Linked DNA regions of Homo sapiens. The protein of the gene in region 2 purifies or fractionates together with the protein of the main gene of each other region. This does not show direct contact. Each region holds a gene or a part of one and is shown on either strand. Other genes may lie near its edges. The genes, in order: TUB, SMYD5 and ZNF430.

What was found.
Region 1: the proteins of SMYD5 (region 2) and TUB purify together in Homo sapiens (affinity purification with mass spectrometry; one large-scale study listed by BioGRID and IntAct). This does not show direct contact.
Region 3: the proteins of SMYD5 (region 2) and ZNF430 purify together in Homo sapiens (affinity purification with mass spectrometry; one large-scale study listed by BioGRID and IntAct). This does not show direct contact.

The regions. Positions count from the first base shown.
Region 1 is NC_000011.10:8,087,676-8,091,322, forward strand, and holds part of TUB (tubby protein homolog), read left to right. Parts: intron 1-1,934; coding exon 1,935-1,986; intron 1,987-2,393; coding exon 2,394-2,556; intron 2,557-3,647. UniProt on the Homo sapiens protein: Functions in signal transduction from heterotrimeric G protein-coupled receptors. Binds to membranes containing phosphatidylinositol 4,5-bisphosphate. Can bind DNA (in vitro). May contribute to the regulation of transcription in the nucleus.
Region 2 is NC_000002.12:73,212,821-73,217,162, reverse strand, and holds the start of SMYD5 (protein-lysine N-trimethyltransferase SMYD5), read right to left. Parts: upstream 2,919-4,342; 5' UTR 2,897-2,918; coding exon 2,801-2,896; intron 1-2,800. UniProt on the Homo sapiens protein: Protein-lysine N-trimethyltransferase that specifically catalyzes trimethylation of 'Lys-22' of the RPL40/eL40 subunit of the 60S ribosome, thereby promoting translation elongation and protein synthesis.
Region 3 is NC_000019.10:21,055,127-21,058,773, forward strand, and holds part of ZNF430 (zinc finger protein 430), read left to right. Parts: intron 1-1,504; coding exon 1,505-2,895; 3' UTR 2,896-3,647. UniProt on the Homo sapiens protein: May be involved in transcriptional regulation.

The DNA.
Region 1 (3,647 bases), on a different chromosome or scaffold from region 2:
GGACACTGGTGTTCGGGTCTGACCCTTTCAAGTCCGTCTGTGGGCAAATGCTTTGACTTTGCTTATTCAGTCAGGCTGTTGGCTTGAGCTGTAGAGATGGGAGGGTTGTAGCCTCTCAGGCCTGGCAGGGCCCTCAGGCATTTTGCGCTCTGGTCCTGAACCCTTTCTTCAGAAGTCTTCACTGCAGTCCTCCAGCCTGGGTGTGTGCCTTCCACAATGGGATGCCCAGCCTCTCAGCCAGCTGGAATATTTAGGGACCTGGTTGCATCCTGTGGTCCTGGCAATGCCCTCAGGGAGCCCCAAATGCAGCTGTGCCCTCTTAGGCAGATGGGCTGTTTCAAGAAGACCAAGGCCTAGAAGTATGGCTCTTGAGCGGTGTTTTCTCCTGTGCTCTGGCAGCTGAGGGTTTGGTGAATGAGGCTGTTGTGCACACAGCCCCAGATCACAGCTGGGGCTCCTCTGACATGCAGAGCAGCTCGTGGGTACAAGGAAAGACCTTCCCAGATGTCAAGTAGGCAGGACACCTGCTAGTTAAAAAACATGCATAGTCCTCATAGATCGTGGCCAAGGTGGTGGGCAGTCTGTGTTATGGGGGCTTCCTTCTACCCTCTGACTGGCTCCCTTGGAGGTGCAAGTAGTTGAAGGCTCATGTAGGTGGTCAATGATTGTTCCAGCTAGAAAGGGCTAGCCATCAGGAGGAGGTGAAAGTGGCTTCACTTTGTCCTCAGGGTGATGTGACCTCCTGTTTCCCCTTTGCACGCACACTGCGCTCACCTTCACACGAGCACACCCACTTCTTCACAGGTGTCTGCATGCACATGTGCACACACATGAGATATTCACACACTTCCTTATGGCCTCACACAAACCTAATGCACTCGGGCACGCCTGTGCAGGAACCTGGACACAGTCTGGTTCAGGGGCAGCTTCAGAATAACTGGGCCAGGGCCGCCTGGGGCTTCCCCAGAGCTCAGATCCTCAGGCTCCAACCTCACCTCATGCAGCTGTCCACACCTTGGCCTTTATAGCATTTGGGCCTAGGTCTCATGCATGTGTCTCTGGCTAGCAAAAAGCTAAGTGATTTGAGTTACCAGTTCCCTACTTGTGCCCTGCCTTCCTCAGAGGCATGGCCAGTGCGGGTGAGATGAGGCTCCCTGTCCCAAGACTGGTGGGGCTCAAGAATTTGATGTCCCCAGGGCTGCCTGTGCCATGTCTGCAGCCCGGGAAGGACCTGGTAGCTGGTTGCTGGGCTGTACATTGATGTGTTGTGTCCACCCTGCAGACACCTCTGTGTGGCCCAAACCCTGTAGGCTGAGGGACTGGTTGGTCTCTTAGCTTCATTCTCTCAAATGAGAAGGAGGACCCTCTGCCCTCTTTAAGTGGGGAAGGGGAGTAGACAAAGTCAGGACTCTACTCTGCCCACCTGGAAAGCTAGGAGTTTGCTTTCAACGGATGGGGAAAGGGTCTGCCCCAGAGGACGCAGCCTCCTCTAGAATGGTGGGAAGGAAGGAAAAGGCTGGGGCTGGTGAGATCCCAGTAGGGAGCTGGAGGGAGCAGCCCCCTGGGTTTGTTTGAAGCCTGGCCTCGGGCCTGGCTTGTTGCTGGGATGCCTCTGGATAGTTCTCTTGGATCTCAGTCAGGCCCGGCCCTGCTCAGGGATCTGAGGGGAGGGTCTCATCCGGTATTTACTGGGGAGTCCCTGGGGAAACAGGGGTCCTAGCAGGCTTCCAAAGTGGCAGCTCGAGCCCTTTTGGTTCAAGCTGGTTTCAAGATGGCAGGCTCCACCCTTCCTCCTTCTACCATGTGGGCTCACTGAGTCCCAGCAGCCGTGATGGGATGGGTTTAACGGGCCCAGATATGCTGGGGGTGGGCTCTGGGCTGTATATCCTGGCACCTCACGGGCAAGCCCTGAAAACCCCTCTTTCGCTCTGCAGTGTCTTAGATGATGAGGGCAGAAACCTGAGGCAGCAGAAGCTTGATCGGCAGGTGAGTAGGCCTGGGGCCGGGTAGAAGGGAAGAGTCTGGGCTGGGATCTCTGAGGGCAGAGGGGCAGGGCTGTCCATCTTCCCTGGATGATCCCGTCTGATTGGGGGATGGGATTCCCATGTGGAAGAAGAGAGGTGCACTCTCTCCCAGCTCAGCACTAACCCTGCCGCGGCACATGGGCTCCTGCCTTCAGGCAGCTGGGTGACTGCAGTTGGAGGGCTGGCTGTGCTGTGATCCTGCCAGGGCAGCCACCTGGGCCCTGTTTTGCCTCCCTTTCCTGGACCCCAAGTGTTGGGGTGCCAAGGACATGGGGCCTTGGCCCAAGGTGGGCTGTGGACCCCCCGATAACTGGGAGCCCGCCCTTCCTGGTGGAGGCAGTGGGTCAGCCAACCTCTGTGCCTCCATAGCGGGCCCTGCTGGAGCAGAAGCAGAAGAAGAAGCGCCAGGAGCCCCTGATGGTGCAGGCCAATGCAGATGGGCGGCCCCGGAGCCGGCGGGCCCGGCAGTCAGAGGAACAAGCCCCCCTGGTGGAGTCCTACCTCAGCAGCAGTGGCAGCACCAGCTACCAAGGTATACCTTGCCTGCTGCCCCACATCCCGTCACTGCTTCGGGGAGCCCGTCACTTCCTGCCCACCTAGGCAGGTGCGGACTGGTCCTGACGGGGGATGCCCAGGCTGTGTATGGCTTCCAGCCCAGGCAGACAGCTGAGTAGGGAGGGCAGAGGGAAGGTGGACCTGTAGCCTTGGGCGCCTGTGTATGCTCCAGCTGACACCTCCTGAATCAGGCACTGAGGCCAGAAGCCTAAACCTTTTATGAGGCCAGGAGTTCAGAAGTCCAAGTTTTGATCTGGAGCATTTCACTGAGTGCAGGAGGTAGCTTCTAAGAGTAGATGACCTGCTCCCCACCAGTATTCTACATTCTGAGAGGAATCCGTCTCACTGTCCTGCCCCATATCAACCAGTGTCTCAGTACAAACACCTTTTTCCTTCCCTCTCTGCACCGTGTCTGCCTGGCTTCTGACTTGCAGATCCCTCTCTCTGGCTCACAACTCCTTAAGAGCTGTAGTGACCTGGAGCCTGCAGCTCCCATCCTTAAATGTTCCAGGTCTCGGCAGAGCCCAGTTGGGAGAAATTCTCTGCAGCTCATCCTGGAGAGAGCACATCTCCAGAGATGGCTGCAGCACATCTCTGTTCTCAGGACCCTCCTTCCTGCTTGGGTTAGGTGAAGAGTAGGCCAGGCCAGACTGAGGGGTTGGGGGTCTCTGAGCTTGAAAGGAGGACTCAGACTCAGTCTCCACTGCCCCCTGCTGGTGCTAGTAATCCAGGCTGCTACTTCATCAAATAGTAATTCTAAAAAGGTTGCAGGCATCTGGCTTTTGCGGTTAGGAAGAACCTTAGCAGTCGTGGTGCTCCCCTCCTTCTGTGGCTTCGTTATGACCTGGAGCCTCCAGATACATCGAACTACTGGTAGTTGCCTCACCTCAGGGCTGAGCTTCTTCATCTAACTGCTGGCCCATACCCTGCCTCGCAGTATTTTAGGTTCTTCTCTGGGTTCCACTGACCCATAGCTCCCTGAGCCCTTTGTCTGCACATTGGAGGGCAGCAGGTGGGTCTCACTTGCCTGGTGCCCAGTTTGTGGCTGGGCACACCATACAGGCTCGG
Region 2 (4,342 bases):
CTGACCAATATGGTGAAACCCTGTCTCTACTAAAAATACAAAAATTAGCTGGACATGGTGGTGTTCACCTGTAGTCCCAGCTACTCGGAAGGCTGAGGCAGGAGAATCGCTTGAACCCAGGAGGCGGAGGTTGCAGTGAGCCAAGATTGTACTACTGCACTATAGCCTGGGCAACAGAGTAAGACTCCATCTCAAAAAAAAAAAGAAGGTTGGAGAGCACTGAACCTGAATGGAAAGGGGACAAACCATACATACTTCCAATTTGAAAAAAAAGTTTTAAGAAAAAATCGTGCAGGCCGGGTATGGTGGCTCACACTGTAAATCTAGCACTTTGGGAAGCAAGGATGAAGGATCGCTTGAGCCCAGGAGTTTGAGACCAGCCTGGGCAACACAGCAAGACCCCATCTCTATAAAAAAAAATAGTGCAAAACTCTTAAGACTATGTAATAGATTTTTGTTGTTGTTGTTGAGATGGAGTCTCCCTCTGTCGCCCAGGCTGGAGTGCAGTAGCACGACCTCAGCTCACTGCAACTTCTGCCTCCTGGGTTCAAGCAATTCTCGTGCCTGGCCCTCAGGTAGCTGGGATTACAGGTGTGCACCACCACGCCCGACTAATTTTTGTATTTTTAGTACAGATGGGGTTTCACCATGTTGGTCAGGCTGGTCTCGAACTCCTGACATCAAGTTCAAGTGATCCGCCCCTCTCGGCCTCCCAAAGTGCTGGGATTACAGGTGTGAGCCACCACGCCAGGCCTAATTTTTGTATTTTTAGTAGAGACAGGGTTTCACCATGTTGGCCAGACTGGTCTTGAACTCCTGATCTCAAGTGATCAGCCCACCTTGGCCTCCGAAAGCGCTGGAATTAAAGGAATGAGCCACCATGCCCGGGCAGACTATGTAGTAGATTTTAAAATCTTGATTAAAAGAAGAAAGCCCACAATAAGCCATGCTGCTATCCGGCTAGTGCACCAGTATGGTAATCCAGCTGGCTTCCACTGGACCTGGTGAGGTTTCTGTTCTGACTGGTCATGTCTCTGGCATAATAGTTGATAAATTTTTGAAAAGTCATTCCTATCCACAGAAGCAATAAACAGTAGTCAAAAACTACTCCCACTTGAGGCCCCTGGTCTATATAGTTTCATGACCCAATTCTCTCAAACCTTTAAAGAATAAATAATGCTCATGCTATTTAAACAATGTAATGACAGAAAGCATTTCTGTTTTACCAAAAAAAAACAAGTATAACCCTCATGTGGCAACTTGAGGAAAATAACACAGAGAAAAAAATCACAAACCAATCTCATTTGAATAGAGAAGCAAAAAGCCCAGGATAATCCATGCTGTTACCAAGTCCAGGCAGGTATGTTATTTTCTCCAGCAGCAGATCAGATGTAGGCAAGGAGAGGGCAATCAGCTAGGGCCTTGATAGAAGCCTGGGACAGGAAAACTGTGCAAGGAGAGTGGCTGAAGTGAAGAAGCGAGAGGGAAGAAATGAAGAAAGGAAGGGGCTGAGAGACTGGGGGCTAATGAAGAAAAAGGTGAAGAATATCACTGCAAACCAAGAATGATGGAACTGAGAGGCCTTCAAACTGTGGCCACCCAGGAGCACTAGAGACTATGGAGATGGAGATAGGAACAGGTAAGGAGACCAGGGATGTAGGGAAGCTGATTTACCAGGGAAGGAGCAAACTGCTCCAGATACCTCTAGAGCAGAAAGGGGGCACGGAAGGTTGAGCTGGAAAACTAGATCAATATGATGACGCTGAGAGCAGACAACAGACAACTAGAGGTCTTACGTCTTGGGCAAGAACCAACCATACACACAGCCACTACACAGGATAAATTATTCAACCTCACTAGTAACCAAAGAAACGTAAATGAGAACAAATATAATTTTACACATATCAATAGGCAAAGATAACTAGGAAAAAAATACTGCTGGACAAAACAAGAGGATGTTTGCACAGAAAATGAGCTCTAAGACTTTTGACTCTGGGGATGAAAAATACCATACAACAATAAAGGGTCCATTAATAAGGGGTTGGTTGAGTGAACTGTGACCCTCTCACGGAAGAAGCTACTACTCAGCTCTTAAAACTTAATATGTAGAAATAGGCTTGATATTGAAAGATTCACTGCTGCATCAAAAAGCAGTTTCTAAAAATGTAATTTTAACGTACTCATCTTTGCACAAGTATAGAAGTATGGGTGATTTTTGTATTTTCTTTCCTTACATGCATTTTGTATTTTTTTCTACAATGAACTTTTGGAACACAATAAAAACGACAAAATCACGTCACCTTCCTGCTAAAAACTCTCCCAATGCCCCCACGGCCTTTGGACTCTGGTCCAAATTCCTCAGCACTCCAAGGACCCTCGTGAAGGATCTTGGCCTCTCTCCTCATCCCCTCACCCAAATCTCACACATGAAGTTCGTGAGGACTCCCTCTTTTACACCTCAGTTCTCTCTGCCCGGCACATCCCCGCCCACCGTTCCAGGGATACAGCAGCAAAGCCCCCTAGCCCCGCCCCGAGCAGCCACAGAAGGGCCTCCCGCGGGCTGGCCGAATTCCGCTGGGAGGAAATGCGCACGGAGACTCCGGAGGCCCGGGTCTATCGCGTGACCGCGCCACGAGCCTGCGCGCAGGGACAGACTGGGAGCCCCCGGGCCGCGAGCAGGGGCAGGGCCGTAGCGTCCGAGCGGCACAGAAGCCTCTGGGCTCCGGGCATGGAGTCCGGCCGGGCTGTCTCCATGGCCGGACTGGGGAGAGGCTCCCGGCAGGACCCGCCCCGACCTCACCTTGGCGCTGCTCACGAAACGGACTTCCACGGAGACCCGCGCGCGGCCCGCCACGCCCACGCAGAAGGAGAACACGTCGCACATGGAGGCCGCCATCTTGGGCGCGCCTCCGCCTTATGACCCTTAACCCCGCCTCGACCTGAGAGGCCACACCCCCTTCTGGTCCCGCCCCCGGCGAGAGTGCCCCTGAGGCTGCGAGGTTTTGGGCTCCACCAAGTCTGAATTTAGGTTCCGTGGTTTGTTGACGGGAGTGTAACTGGGCCTGCCTTTGTGCTTTTACATCGGTGCCTTTTTGTGTCTGTACCTCTGTATCAGAGTCTGTGTGCGCGTACAGTTTTGATGTGTGTATCTTTGAGTCCGTTGCATGTTTTGTTGTGGTTTTTTTTTTTTGAGATAGTCTCACTCTGTCGCCCAGGCTGGTGTGCAGTGGCGCGATCTCGGCTCAGTGCAACCTCTGCCTCCCAGGTTCAAGTGATTCATTCTCCTGCCTCAGCCTCCCGAGTAGCTGGGCGTACAGGCGTGCGCCACTAAGCCCAGCTAATTTTTGTATTTTTAGGGGTTTCACCATGTTGGCCAGGCTGGTCTCGAACTCCTGACCTCAAGTGATCCGCCCGCCTCGACCTCCTAAAGTGTTGGGATTACAGGCGTGAGCCACCTCGCCCGGCCTCCGATGCATGTTTCTATGTATGTTGTCTCTGTCCACACAGTGGCCTGTCTTCACTGAGTAAAGCGCTCTTTGGACCCAGCCCTAGAGTGGGACAGCAGAAGGCCAACTTACTCCTATCCTGTCTAGCTCTCAGCCTGAAGGGAAGGACTAGCTTATACCCCGGAGCTCACTCACCCCACTTGAAGAGTCCAGGACAAGATTTCCTTTCTCGGTAATCCCTCTGGCAGCAGAACAGTCCTGCCAAAGGTCAGGGTGGACTTGTGCCTCTGTCAGATTCTTCAATGGCTTAGGGACCTTGCAACCGGGGGTAGCGGAGGAGTCCATAGGGGACCTCAGATCTGAGAACCTCTGAAACTGGATACAGAAGTGAGTGTGCATATGCACACACTGTCGTGAAAAGGGGGAGGGGCCTGTTCTCTCAGGACCCCAAGAAGCTGCAAACCACAGACCTATGGCATTTGTCCCCACAGCTAGGCCTGACTATCAAGCCTTGTTTTGTTTCCTTGTCCCCTGATTTTGTGAGTTTTGTTTGAGACAGGGTCTCGCTTTGTCGCCCATACTGGCATGGGGCGATCTCGGCTCACGGCAGCCTCCAGCTCCCGGGCTCAAGAACAGACTGGGCAACGTAGTGAGACCTTGTCTCTCCAAAAAATAGAAAAATTTGCCGGGCGTGGTGATGCGTGGGAGGATCACCTGAACCTGGGGAGGTCTAGACTGCAATGAGCCGTGATCAAGCCACAATTATCTATCAAATAATTATAGATAGATAGATAGTTGGCAGGGACAGAGAAAGGTTCTTGAAACTGACCCTGCCTCTCCTCAAGCTTGCAACCTGGTGTCAAGGAGCGAATAGTCCACGGACTTGGGGGAGATAG
Region 3 (3,647 bases), on a different chromosome or scaffold from region 2:
TATTCAATTTGTTTTCAATTTTTAAAATTAATATATACATTTTTTATGGTTTCTCTCTGAAACTTTTATATTTTTGATAAAACCATATTGCCTTATTTTGTATACATTGTAATCTTTGATTGAAATTTGTACATTTAAAAAAGCTACCTGTCACAATCCTTATAATGTAGCTTTGTCCTGGCATAGTCTGGACAATTGTCTTGATTAGAGATACTGGGAGTCTCTCAAACATGTTGCTAGAATGTGTCTTGTCTACAATTTTGTGTTTATTTTTTAATTAAAAGAGTTTGTGTTTCTTCTTTTTTTAGTTTTTTTTTTTGTTTGTTTTTTGTTTTTTTGTCAGACGGGGTCTTGCTCTGTCTCCCAGACTGGAGTGCAGTGGCGCAATCTCGGCTCACTGCACCCTCCGCCACCTGGGTTCAAGTGATTCTCCTGCCTCAGCCTCCCAAGTAGCTGGGAATACAGGTGTACGCTATCACACCTGGCTAACTTTTCTTTTGTTTTTTTAGTAGAGATGGAGTTTCACCATGTTGGCCAGGCTGGTCTCAAACTTGTGACCTCAAGTGATCCGCCAGCCTTGGCCTCCCAAAGTACTGGAATTACAGGCATGAACCACCACAACTGGCCTTTTTTTGTTTCTTCTTAATAGTAATAACTTGCTACACCTGTTTTCTGTGTGTGGCACTGCAGTCTCTCTGCTGCTGTAACATTTAGCTTTGGTCTCAGCAGACTTAAACTGTCATTCCAAAGTATACCACCATTTCTTTCAGCACTAGATGTCATAGGAGACAGAAACCAGTGTATAGATAGGTCCCTAGAAGCAAGTAATAAAGATGTATGTGGCAGTATTTTAATTGTCTTTTAAAAAAGAAACCAAAAGTTGGCAGTGGGGAGCAGGAAGAGCTGTGTTGGGTAAATTTAACAGACTTTTCTTTTTCTTCTGTGTCACTCTCTATGTTGTGCTCAGCTGGGGCACTTCACACACTTAACTTATTTATAAATTTTCCTCAGATGTATTTTTGTTGGATGTTTTTGTTACATTTACATGTCTGTAAAAAATTAGGGCCTTTGGGCCAGGCGCGGTGGCTGGTGTGCCAAAGTGCGGTAATCCCAGCACTTTGGGAGGCTGAAGTGGACGCATCATCTGAGGTCAGGAGTTCGAGACCAGACTGGCCAACATGGCGAAACCCCATCTCTACTAAAAATACAAAAATTAGCTGTGCGTGGTGGTGCGTGCCTGTAATCCCAGCTACTTTGGAGGCTGGGGCAGGAGAATAGCTTGAGCCTGGGTGGCGGAGGTGGCAGTGAGCAGAGATCACGCCATTGCACTCCATCCTGGGCTACAGAATGAGACTCTGTCTAAAAAAAAAAAAAAATTAGGGCCTTTATTATTTTGCTATGCCATCTTGTTTATGTAGTTTGTATAATTATATGGGTTAGATTTGTAAAGCATATTCATCTGAGTCTAGTAAATGGAGTAATTTGTTATTTTTATTTCTTTCAGTTACATATTCTCATTTTGCCCAAGACCTTTGGCCAGAGCAGGGCATAAAAGATTCTTTCCAAGAAGTCATATTGAGAAGATATGGAAAATGTGGACATGAAGATTTACAGTTAAGAACAGGCTGTAAAAGTGTGGATGAGTGTAATCTGCACAAAGAATGTTATGATGAACTAAACCAGTGTTTGACAACTACCCAGAGTGAAATATTTCAATATGATAAATATGTGAATGTCTTTTATAAATTTTCAAATCCAAATATACAAAAGATAAGACATACTGGAAAGAAGCCTTTCAAATGTAAAAAATGTGACAAATCGTTTTGCATGCTTTTACACCTAACTCAACATAAAAGAATTCATATTAGGGAAAATTCTTACCAATGTGAAGAATGTGGTAAAGTCTTTAACTGGTTCTCAACCCTTACTAGACACAGAAGAATTCATACTGGAGAGAAACCCTACAAATGTGAACAATGTGGCAAAGCTTTTAAGCAGTCCTCAACCCTTACTACACATAAGATAATTCATACTGGAGAGAAACCCTACAGATGTGAAGAATGTGGCAAAACCTTTAACCGGTCCTCACACCTTACTACACATAAAAGAATTCATACTGGAGAGAAACCCTACAGATGTGAAGAATGTGGCAGAGCTTTTAACCGGTCCTCACACCTTACTACACATAAGATTATTCATACTGGAGAGAAACCCTACAAATGTGAAGAATGTGGCAAAGCTTTTAACCAATCCTCAACCCTTACTACACATAAGATAATTCATGCTGGAGAGAAACCTTACAAATGTGAAGAATGTGGCAAAGCTTTTTACCGATTCTCATACCTTACTAAACATAAGATAATTCATACTGGAGAGAAATTCTACAAATGTGAAGAATGTGGCAAAGGCTTTAATTGGTCCTCGACCCTTACTAAACATAAAAGAATTCATACTGGAGAGAAACCCTACAAATGTGAACAATGTGGCAAAGCTTTTAATGAGTCCTCAAACCTTACTGCACATAAGATAATTCATACTGGAGAGAAACCCTACAAATGTGAAGAATGTGGCAAAGCCTTTAACCGGTCCCCAAAACTTACTGCACATAAGGTAATTCATTCTGGAGAGAAACCCTACAAATGTGAAGAATGTGGCAAAGCTTTTAACCAATTCTCAAACCTTACTAAACATAAGATAACTCATATTGGAGATACATCTTACAAATACCTAGAATGTGATAAAGCCTTTAGCCAGTCTTCAACTCTTACTAAACATAAGGTAATTCATACTGGAGAGAAACCCTACAACTGTGAAGAATACGGCAAAGCTTTCAACCAGTCCTCAAACCTTATTGAACAAAGTAATTCATACTGGAGAGAAACCCTACAAATGTGAAGATTGTGGCAAAGCCTCTAACCCGTCCTGAATTCTTACTAAACATAAGAACATTCATACTGAAGAGGAACCCTATGAGTGTGAAGAATATGGCAAAGCCTTCAACAAGTCCTCAATTCTTACCAGACATAAGATAATTCTGGCTGGGTGCGGTGGCTCACACCTGTAATCCCAGCACTTTGGGAGGCTGAGACGGGTGAATTACATGAGGTTGGGAGTTCGAGACCAGCCTGACCAACATGGTGAAATCCTGTCTCTACTAAAAATACAAAATTAGCCATGCGTAGTGGTGCATGCCTGTAATCCCAGCTACTCGGGAGGCTGAGGCAGGAGAATTGCTTGAACCCGGGAGGCAGAGGTTGAAGTGAGCTGAGATCGCGCCATTGCACTCCAGCCTGGGCAACAAGAGTGGCACTCCATCTCAGAAAAAAAAAAAAAAGATAATTCATACTGAAAAGAAACTCTACAAACTTGAAAGATGTGACAGTGCTTTTGACAACACCTAAAACTTTTAAACATAAAAAATCATACTGGTGAGAAATCCTAGAAATGTAAAGAATGTGACAAGGCCTTTAAATGGTTGTCACACTTCATTATAGGTAAGATAGTTCATACTGAAGAAAACTTCTACAAGTGTGAACAGTGTGGCAAAACTTTTAATGAATGCTCACACCTTATTGCACAGGAGAGCATTTATACTTGAAAAAAATTGTACAAATATAAAGACCATGAAAAAGCCATTAATATCTATT